2 separate regions of the Homo sapiens genome follow, and region 1 is linked to region 2. The links come from fine-mapping of genetic effects on gene expression. A gene starts in region 2. The other region holds a variant in brackets. All regions are shown on one strand. Distances are from middle to middle.

Region 1 (5,359 bases), 330 kb before region 2:
CGCATGCCTGTAATCCCAGCTACTCGAGAGGCTGAGGGAGGAGAATTGCTTGAACCTGGGAGGCAGAGGTTGCGGTGAGCCGAGAATGCATCATTGCACTCCAGCCTGGGCAACAAAAGCAAAACTCCCTCTCCCCCCGGCCAAAAAAAAGGCCGATCACAGTGGCTCACGCCTGTAATCCCAACACTTTGGGAGGCCGAGGTGGGTGGATCACAAGGTCAGGAGTTCAAGACCAGCCTGGCCAACATGGTGAAATCCTGTCTCTACTAAAAATACAAAAAAACTAGCCTGGTGTGGTGGCACACGCCTGTAGTTCCAGCTACTCAGGAGGCTGAGGCAGGAGAATCACTTGAACCCAGGAAGCGGAGGTTGCAGTGAGCCAAGATTGTGCCGCGGCACTCCAGCCTGGGCGATAAAGGGAGACTCCATCTCAAAAAAAAAACAGGCCGGGAGTGGTCTATTTTGACACTCCACCTCAAAAAAATTAATTAATTAAAAAATAAAATTTAAATTTTAAAAAATCATTTCACAAATGATAATTTAATATGATTGCTGCCCTGGAAGGGGGAAAAAAGACTTACTCTAAGAATACAACAAAGACTGTTCATGGGCTAGAAGCATCAAAAGTCCAGACACGGTTAGACAAGTTTTGTTTTCATTTATTTTGAGACAGAGTCTCACTCTGTCGCCCAGGCTGGAGTGCAGTGGCGCGATCTCAGCTCACTGCAAGCTCCGCCTCCGAGGTTCACACCATTCTCCTGCCTCAGCCTCCCAAGTAGCTGGGACTATAGGCGCCCGTCACCACGCCTGGCTAATTTTCTTGTATTTTTAATAGAGACGGGGTTTCACAGTGTTAGCCAGGATGGTCTAGATTTCCTGACCTTGAGATCCACCCACCTCGGCCTCCCAAAGTGCTGGGATTATAGGCATGAGCCACTGTGCCCGGCTGACAAGTTTTAAATAATGTTTTAAGGCATGACTTTGCTTCCAATTGGCCATTTGAACAAAGCAATTAAATCATCTGAATTACGCACCTACCAAACTGCCACAGTTACTAGAAATCAGACAACTGCCAGGCACAGTGGCCCATGCTTGAAATCCCAGCACTTTGGGAGGCCAAAGCAGGAGATCACTTGAGTCCAGGAGTTCAAGACCAGCCTGGTTAATATGGCAAAACCCCATGTCTACAAGAAAGGAAAAAAATTAGCTGGGCATGGTGGCTTACAGCTGTAGTCCTAGCTACTCCGGAGGCTGAGGTGAGAAGATCACTTGTGCCTGGGAAGCAGAGGTTGCAGTAAGCTGTGATCCCGCCACTGCACTTGAGCCTGAGGGACAGAGGGAGACCCCATCCTTTTTTTTTTTTTTTTGAGACGGAGTTTCACTCTAGTTGCCCAGGCTGGAGTGCAATGGCAAGATCTCAGTTCACCGCAAACTCTTGCCTCCCAGGTTGAAGCAACTCTCCTGCCTCAGCCTCCCGAGTAGCTATGATTACAAGCACGCGCCACCAAGTCCAGCTAATTTTGGATTTTTAGTAGAGACTGGGTTTATACATGTTGGTCAGGCTGGTCTTGAACTCCCGACCTCAGGTGATCCACCTGCCTCGGCCTCCCAAAGTGCTGGGATTACAGGCATGAGCCCCTAGCCTTTTTTTTTTTTTTTTTTTTTTTTTTTTTTGAGACACGGTCTGGCTCTGTCGCCCAGGCTGGAGTGCAGTGGCGCAGTCTAAGCTCACTGCAACCTCCGCCTCCTGGGTTCACGCCATTCTCCTGCCTCAGCCTCCTGAGTAGCTGGGACTACAGGCGCCCGCCACCACGCCTGGCTAATTTTTTGTATTTTTAGTAGAGACGGGGTTTCACAGTGTTAGCCAGGATGGTCTCGATCTCCTGACCTTGTAATCCGCCCGCCTCGGCCTCCCAAAGTGCTGGAATTACAGGCGTGAGCCACCGCCCCCGGCCCTGGCACCGTATTTCAAGGCCGAAAATTCGCATCCTCAGTGCCAGCAATTCTCCTCGTGGTCAAAGAGGAGAAACACTGGGGAGAGCACCCGGAAGCGGGGGCGAGGACGCAGATCGGGGGTCGACGTCAAGAAAGAAGGCGGGAAGAGGACAAGGTCGGGAGAGGAGGAGGAGGGGAGCGAGGACGCAGAGAAGGAGGGGAAAGAGGACGGAGAGGAGCGAGGACGGAGGGGGGACGGGAACGAAGAGGGGCGAGGACGTTCAGCATCCATTGCGACAGCGACAAACAGGACACCGCCAGGTTCCCGGCGGAGGCAGCGCCCAAGATCCCCGTTGCCGAGCAACCGAAGCATGGCGGTGGGGCGGGGTCGGAGCCTGCGCATTTCCGCCCCCGCCCGCCCGGCTGGTCGGAAGTGACGCCAGGGGGCGGGGCCAGCGGCGCGGTCGGGTGAGAGGCCGCGGCGGCAGGTGAGTGAGCGCGGCCTCGTACTCGCGCGTGCACGCCGCAGGGGCGCCGCAGGCCGCCCCTTCGCTCTGGGACCCCGGCCCCCAGGTTCCCCAGTCCCTCGGCCCCTGGAGGACCCCGCCGTGCTGCCCCCTAGCTCCTCCGCCTTCCCGAGTCGGGTGCGGGCCGGGAGGCTGCGGCGGGGCCCCAAGTCCCTCAGCGGGTCGGCAGCAGCGCCTCTGGAGGCTGATTCTTTCGGGTTTCCCCCATTGCCGCAGCCTGG[G/A]TTTCAGTGGCATTCAGAACAAGCCCACATGTTCCTCAAAGCGGGGTTTTACCTCCCGGTAGGGAGCTCCCCGCCGTGGCGCAGCGTAGGTGAGCCGGCCGTGGTCGCTTTCGCTCTTGGTGCCGCCTGGGTTGCCTGAGAGTGTTTTTTTATGGTGGAAGAATGTGGATGAGAAGCCTCACGGGGGTCGGAGAGGCGTGTCCTCTCTCGGGACGCTGTCTGCAAGCTTGTCCGTCCGGCACCCCGGGAAAGCTCCCCGAGCGCAGCCGAGGTTGCTCGTCTGTGGGAGGGACTCAGGCATAGAACACAAAACAGAGGCTAGATGGGAGGAAAACACTGGGATTAGCGTTCCTGGCTCTCCCCTACGTTCGTTGGCCGAGAGTTGTCAAGGAGAGAGTTTGCCCTTGGACAGACTGATAGGATATCAGGGTAGGCAATTTCACTTACTCTCTGGTTCTAAACCTTGTGATTCCAGCTGAGGAGGCTGTGACGCGCTCCCTTCCATGTACTGGCTGCCGGTGTCTTTACGGCGCCAGCATCAGATTACACTACTTCCCTTATTGCAATTTCAGTCTGCATCCAATTAGAGCAGAATAACTCAACAAATACTCTCCGAGTGTCTGCTGGGAACCAGGGATGGTTGTAGGAGCTAAGGATATAGTACTCCACGAAAGAACTTCCTGTCCTCAAGGAGCTTCTATTCTACTGGAGGGTACAGATAGTAAATTAGATAAATAAAAAATGGAGCTTGCTGGGCCGGCGCGGTGGCTCACGCCTGTCATCCCAGCACTTTGGGAGGCCGAGGCAGGCGGATCACCTGAGGTCAGGAGTTCGAGACCAGCATGGCCAACATGGTGAAATCCCGTCTCTACTAAAAATAAAAAAATTAGCTGCGTATGGTGGCAGGTGCCGGTAATCCCAGTTACTCGGGTTCAAGCGATTCTCCCCACTCAGCCTCCCAAGTAGCTGTGATTACAGGTGCCCGCCACCACACCCAGCTAATTTTTTTTATTTTTTATTTTTAGTAGGGGTTTCACCATGTTGGCCAGGCCAGTCTCAAACTCCTGACCTCAGGTGATCCACTCGCCTCGGCCTCCCAAAGTGCTGGGATTACAGGTGTGAGCCACCGCAACTGGCCCTCTTTTTTTCCTTTTGCTCCACCCTCCTGAGTATCTGGGACTACAGGCATGTGCCACCATATTTATTTTTCTTAAAAATTTTTTTTGGGTGGGCGCAGTGGCTCATGCCTGTAATCCCAGCACTTTGGGAGTTTGGGGTAGGCGGATCACTAGGTCAAGAGATCGAGACCATCCTGTCCAACATGGTGAAATCCCGTCTCTACTAAAAATATAAAAATTAGCTGGGTGTGGTGGCGCACACCTGTAGTCCCAGCTACTTGGGAGGCTGGGGCAGGAGAATAGCTTGAACCCGAGAGGCAGAGGTTGCAGTGAGCCGAGATTGCACCACTACGCTCTGGAGACATAGCGAGACTGTCTCAAAATAAATAGGCCGGGCGCGGTGGCTCACGCCTGTAATCCCAGCACTTTGGGAGGGCGAGGCGGGCGGATCACGAGGTCAGGAGATCGAGACCATCGTGGCTAACACGGTGAAACCCCGTCTCTACTAAAAATACAAAAAATTAGCCGGGCGAGGTGGCGGGCGCCTGTAGTCCCAGCTACGCGGGAGGCTGAGGCAGGAGAATGGCGGAAACCCCGGGGGGCGGAGCCTGCAGTGAGCCGAGATCGCGCCACTGCACTCCAGCCTGGGCCACAGCGAGACTGTCTCAAAAAAATAAAATAAAATAAATAAATAAATTATTTTGTAGGGATGGGGTCTCTCTTTCTCAGTCTGGTCCTGAACTCCTGTGCCCAAGCAACCCTCCTTTGTTGGCCTCCTGAAGTGCTGGAATTATAAGTGTGAGCCACTGCGCCCAGCCTGTTTATTTATTTATGTATTTTTTTAAAAAAATATGTAGATGGGTTCTCACTGTGTTGCCCAGGCAGGTCTCAAACTCCTGGCTTCAAGCAGTCCTCCTGCCTTGGCCTCGCAAAGTGTTAGGATTACAGGTGTGAGCCACCATGCCCACCCCTTCTTTTTCTTTTCAGGCTCCTTGCTTCCATTCTGCTGACTTCTAATGGTTGTCTGCTGCTTGTAACAACACAAAGTTTAATGGATTAAAGTGACGAATATTTATTATCCAACAGTTTCTGTGGGTCAGGAATTGATCAGTGGCTTATCTGGGTGATTATGACTTCGGGTCTCATGGAGTTGCAGCCAAGATGTTGGCTGGGGCTGCAGGTGTCTAAAAGCTGGATGGAGTCTTTTCTGTTTTTTCTAGAGGTCGAAAATTTAAAAAGAACAAATAAAATAAAAGCTGGACCAGGGCTGGAGGATCTGATTCCAAGATGGCTCACTCACAAGGCTAGTGACTGGAAGCCTCAGTTCCCTCTTGGCTGGTGGCAGGAGCCCTCAGTTCCTTGCATCATGGAACTTTCCTTAGGGCCCATGTCCTCACATGGTAATTATCTTCCCTTAGAGCAAGTGATCTCGGAGTGAAAGTGGAAGGTTTCCACCACAAAACCTGTTAATGAAATTCTTTTTTTTTTTTTTTTGAGACAGAGTCTTCCTCTGTCACCCAGGCTGGAGTGCAGTGACGTGATCTTGGCTCATTCCGCC
Region 2 (5,359 bases):
TGTGGCGGAGGCCCCAAGTCCAGGGCCAAGGGGTCCCCAGGGCCACCACCCCCTGTGGCTAGGGCCACCCGGAAGGGTCCCGGCCCCAGTGGGCTCCTGCCTGAGTCGTGGAAGCCGGGGATGGGAGGGGACCCAAGGGGCGTGGGTGCGGGGGACATGGCCTCAGCAGGCCCTGAGGGCAGCGTCCCCTGCTATCCCCCGCCTGCCCCAGGGGAGTTCCCTGAGGCCCACAGCCTCCACCTGTCTCTGCTGGGCGTCAACTACCCGCTCAGCCCCGGCCTCTTCTCCTACTTGGGGCCCTCACTGGCCGCTGCAGCCCATGTGCCCTTCCTGGCCTCGGCCAGCCCCCTGCTGCCCCCGGCCACGGCCTTCCCAGCCGTGCAGCCCCCTCAGCGCCCCACCCCGGCCCCCCGCCTGTACTACCCGCTGCTTCTGGAGCACACTCTGGGGCTGCCAGCAGGCAAAGCTGCCCTTGCCAAGGCCCCTGTCTCCCCCAGGAGCCCCTCTGGGACTCCGGCTCCTGGCCTGCTGAAGGTGCCAGTTCCAGGGCTGGGGCCCTGGCCCCGAGTCACCCCCAGGGACCCAGGGCAGGAGGGGGAGCTGGAGCGGGCAGCCCAGAGTGACCCCAGGAGGAGGCTGTCCCTGGGAAGCAGGCTGGAGCTTCCGAAGGCATCCCCCAGCCTGACAAGGTTCTGTTCCCGGAGCAGGTGGGCGTCTTGGGCTCCCGGTTCCTGGGGTGGACGGAGGGGCTGGGCGGCTGGGCATGGCGGTTGGGCGGCTGGGCATGGCGGCTGGGGTCCGTCCTGAGCTCAGTCGCTGGGAAAGTGGGCTCCAGGCCACAGAGGGGAACTGAGACCCGAGAGCCAGCGCGGGGGTCCTCGGGGTCTCCAGGAGAGCCTAGGCTCTAGGCTGGGGCCACAGGGCAGAGGCCGTGAGGGGAGAGGGGCAGGGGCCGGGGGCGCTGTGGGGGCAGTGCGGCCTCCTGACCAGCTTCCACCCCACAGCCTGCCCACCGGCTCCTCTGTGATGCTGTGGCCTGAGGACGGGGATCCAGGCGGCCCTGAGACCCCCGGCCCTGAGGGCCCCCTCCCCCTGCAGCCACGGGGCCCAGTGCCAGGAAGCCCGGAGCATGTGGGCGAGGACCTGACCCGAGCCCTCGGTGACTACGCCAGGGTGGAGCAGCGCCTGGGACAGTTGGGGCCCGCGGGGGGCCTGGCCCCGAGACCCCTGCGGGAGCAGCTGGGCAAGATCCGCCTGGAGCTGCTCACCATTCACCAGGCGCTGGAGCAGGCCGTGAGGCCGCCAGACGCACCCCTCGACCTCTCTGTGAAACGTGCGCCCGCCAAGGGGCCCCAGGCTCTTGGAGAGGCGTGGGGGCGGCCCGAGCTGGGTCCCGTGTTGACCGGGGGCACCCCCGAGCCACCCGGCATGCTGGGCCCTGCAGCGCCCCAACCCTTCTCTGGCCACACCACCAAGTGTGAGGCCGACTCCAGCGTCCCACCCCCAGGGCTCCCCCTCGCAGCCCCAGATGACCCTGTCATTCCTGGCAGTGGCTGGGGCACCTGTGTTGCGACGAGGAGTTCCCAGACCCCTGAGGCTGTCTGTGGCCTGCAGAGCCCCCAGGGCGCCGAGGTCTGACCTGCAGCGCCTGAGGTCTGACTGTCTCTGCCTGCAGCATGCCGGCCCCTCTCCTGCAGCCCCTGCCCCTCACCTGCCTGGGACCTGCCCCGCCTCCGCATGCATGTGGATAGACCCCCACGGGCCGTGGCCAACGCTTGTCCCTGGGGCCACACAGGGACACTGGAGGTCACAGTTATTTATTGATCACAATTGTGGACATTAAAACAGAAACTGTTCACACACGCCGTCTGTGCCTCCTTCCTTTGGGGCCCTAGTGTAGCCACCTGGACACCCCCCTAAGGAAGTGTCCTGGCCTGGGAGGCCTGGGTGGGCAGCAGTCCTGCTGGGCCTCTGTCTTCAGACTCGGCCCTCTCCTGTGGGCTGGGCCCTCCCCGCGGGGCTGGGGTCTGGGGGTGGGGCGGGACATCGGCGACGGGAGCTGAGCCAGGAGAGCCGTGTGGACTGGGCTGCTCGGCCTGTGTCTTGGTGTGTCGGGGGTGGAGAGGCGTGTGGACTGGGCTGCTCGGCCTGTGTCTTGGTGTGTCGGGGGTGGGCACGGACCCCTGAACATCCTCTAGCCTCTGAATCCAGCAAGGCCGCGCTCATATCAGCTCTCCTGCGGTTAAACGGTGGCCCCGGGGCTCTGTGGCTGGAGGCTGCTCACCCAGCGTGGGCTCTGCTGGCCCCTGCCAGCCCCTGCAGCCGTGATAGGTATCAGCCTTCACAGCTCACTGCCTCCCTCCCAGCAGGGCCTGGCTTGGCCCTCCCACGGGCAGGGGATGGGCAGACAGGGAGGGGCACCCGGGACCCCCACAGCAAATCACTTCTCTCCTGGGAGAGCTGGCCACACCCTCCACGCCCACCCTGGAATGGGCTCTGGAGCCCACATCGCCCCCCCAGGAGGAGAAGCAGTTCCTGCCTGCGTCCAGCCGGGCTGGGGCCAGTCCAAGCAGGCTGGCAGCGGCCCCATTAACTACCAGGGAGATAGCATCAGCCCCGACCCTGCCTCGGGGCAGCTAGAGCTGGGGTGCTGCCTGGCCAGGCGCGGAGTGCTGTGGGGACAGGTCCCAGCCGGGCCCCTCTACCCAGAGGCTTCCTGGAGGGGCTGCAGGGGGCTCTGGGCAGCCAGGAACTGTTCCCAAGTCCCGAGTCTGAGGGAGACTCCCTGTCCTCAGCCCCCGCCCCCCATATGTCCACTGCACCCCATATGTCCACTGCACCTCAGTTTCTCACCCCCACTGAGCAGACAGGTGAGCATGGCCTTGCTGGGGGCAACAGCACCCGTCTCCCAGGTGTGGAGACACGACCTCCTTCGCTGTCACCCGTGGGGAGCAGGACAGGCCTCATGGAGGGTGCCTCAGCCAGCAGGTCACCCGCCTGTGGTCCAGACCCAAGGACCCTGCTTGGGGGTGGCAGCCTGGGGCTGCCTTGCCACTTGGAGTAATGAACTTGCTGGTTGTGGGGGGACCATGGGGGACCCCTGGAGGGGGGTGGGCTGCATGGCATCTGGCCGTGTAGGGGACGTGGGAATAGTGTCCGGGCAGAGGGCGCAGCCTGCAACAAGGCGCGGAGGCAGGAACACCACAGCATGGGGAGTCCTCAGGGGACCTGGTTTTTCTTTCATAGAAGCTTCAGGGGCCAAGGCCGGAGACTGCACTCTCCCTCCTCCACCCGGCCCAGCTGCGTCCCTGCCAGTGGCTCCTCCCACTTCCTCCAGTTCTAGTTTCCAACAACAGAGGCTGCAGCCACCCAGCCCCGAAGCAGGGCCCAGCGAGACAGGGCCCAGGTAAGAGACCCCTCCCCCCGGCCTCTCTCGGTGGGGCAGGTGGAGGCCCTCGGAATAGGCTGCCTCGCCCCTAAGGGGTCAGAAGTCTCCCTGACCTAGGGGCTCGGGTAGAAGGGCTGTGTGTGGGTGACCGCCCCCCCGCCGTAGAAAGGGGTTCCACAGGCAGATGGATTTGAGAAATGTTGCTTATCTGTCTGAGGCCCATGAGCTCATCTGGGGCTCAGGGGAAAACCCACAGCGAGCTCCACGGGTCATGTGTCTCCCAGACTCAAGTCCCAGGCACCTAGACACTAGGGTGGCCGCTGGGCTTGGTGGCCAGGTAGACCCTCAGGACCAGGAGGACCCGGCCTCATAGGAAGAAACTGGAGGAGTGACTTTGCCATTCCCACACACAGTGGGGCCTTATTCTCTCTCTTGCAGCCCCAAGCGTGACCCAGCTGCAGAGAAGCTGAGACGGTGATTCGGACTGACTGGACTCTGGCCTCCAGGTGTCTGCACCTCACACTGGACCCACCTGGAGACTCCACGGGCTCCCGGCAGCTCCGGCTGCTTGGGTGGATCCGGGTGCCCGCAGGGGCTGTGGGAGGGCCCCGGGGCCTGCACTGCTCCCCCGATGGCCTGCTCTTCCTCACGGCCGGGGCTGCACCCTGTGTCCACGTGCTAGATCTGGAGGGACGCCCCATCTGCCTCCTGCCCTGCCGCACTCCGGGGAGCGGGGCCTTCGTTCCAGAGGACGTGGCTGTGACAGCGTCAGGGCTTGTGGTGGTCAGCGATCCCATCCATGGGGCTGTCCATGCACTCCAGCACACAGCCCGGGACCCCGGGGGCCACTGGGTGACAGTGGGCACCTTCCTGTCTCCCCGAGGGCTGGCTGTGGATGCCCTCAACCGCCTCCTGGTGACGGACTACTTGCCTGGGGCTGTGCACAGCTTCTCGTTGGGTCCTGCTTGGGAGCCCCTGGCCCCAGCCTCCATGCTGGGTCTGGAGGGCCCCTGCTGGGTGGGCCCAGGGCCTGATGGGGGCCTTGCTGTGAGTGAGGAGTTTGGGGATGTGAGGCTGTTTGGCAGTGCCCGCCAACCCCTGGGCTCCCTGGGGGGCTGGACGGGGCACACTTTCGGCTGCCCAGCGGGCATCTGCTCCAACTCAGAGGGCAATGTTATTGTGGCAGACGAGCAGAGGCGCCAGGTGACCCTGTTTCCCCGGGCTGGGCCACCCATCTGCCTGGTGTCAGAGGGGCTTGGGCAGCCCTTGGGAGTGGCCTGTGCACCCCAGGGCCAGCTCCTGGTGGCTGATGCCAAGGACAACTCCATCAAGGTGTACCAGGGCCTCAAGGAGCTGGCCTGACCTGAGGCTGGGTTGGAGCAGCCCTCCTGTGCCTGAGGCCAGCTCCCAGGCCCTTGGATCACCGCGGGAGGAACCCTCAGGATGGGTGGAGCCTCCAGGCTATGGGCATTGCCTGCCTGATGCCAGCACCACCTGGGCTGGGCCCTGGGCTTGGCTCGAGTTCTCCTGCTGGTGAGGCTCCGGATCTCAGGAGCAGCCCTGAGTCTGCTTCCCAGGCTGCCCCTGCCAGGCCTGCAGCCTCCCCAGCCAGGGCTGCTCTCTGCTGTCCCCATTCAGTGCCCTGGCCCCTGCATTCATGCCCCCCACACCCCCTCAGGCCCTGTGCCTGGACTTTGGGGCTGGCAGCTGAAGCCTTGAGATCCTGGGCCAGCTGCCGGCACACAGCTAGGCAGACTCTCCCACCAGGTGCCCCTGCCCAGGCCTCCTAATCGGGGGCAGACAGGCAGGGAGGGTGTGGCTGGGCTGGGCTGGGCGGGGCGGCCTGGGGCAGGGGTGTGGCCCCTAAATGTCCCCAACCTCAGAGGGACCTAGAGTCCTGAGCCTCCAGTAGCTTCTCTGGGCCTGGCAGAGGTAAGGGGGAGGCAACCCTGGAGTGTCTGGAGGCCCATG

Evidence for each region.
Region 1: its variant is fine-mapped to the expression of NHLRC4 in monocytes (TOPMed, PIP 0.95).

Annotation. Positions count from the first base shown.
Region 1 is chr16:232,435-237,793 of GRCh38, forward strand. FAM234A (family with sequence similarity 234 member A) reads left to right here and starts at 2,387. Exons shown (of 13, transcript NM_032039.4): 1 at 2,387-2,423. RefSeq lists an enhancer at 1,804-2,347 and silencers at 2,080-2,129, 2,210-2,669. The variant G/A (reference allele first, on the strand shown) is at 2,684.
Region 2 is chr16:563,670-569,028 of GRCh38, forward strand. NHLRC4 (NHL repeat containing 4) reads left to right here and starts at 3,336. Exons shown (of 2, transcript NM_001301159.2): 1 at 3,336-3,406; 2 at 3,802-5,359. The coding sequence starts at 4,379. The coding sequence ends at 4,750. PRR35 (proline rich 35) reads left to right here. Exons shown (of 3, transcript NM_145270.3): 2 at 1-707; 3 at 1,005-1,860. The coding sequence ends at 1,638. RefSeq lists enhancers at 975-1,871, 2,767-3,662, 3,611-3,660.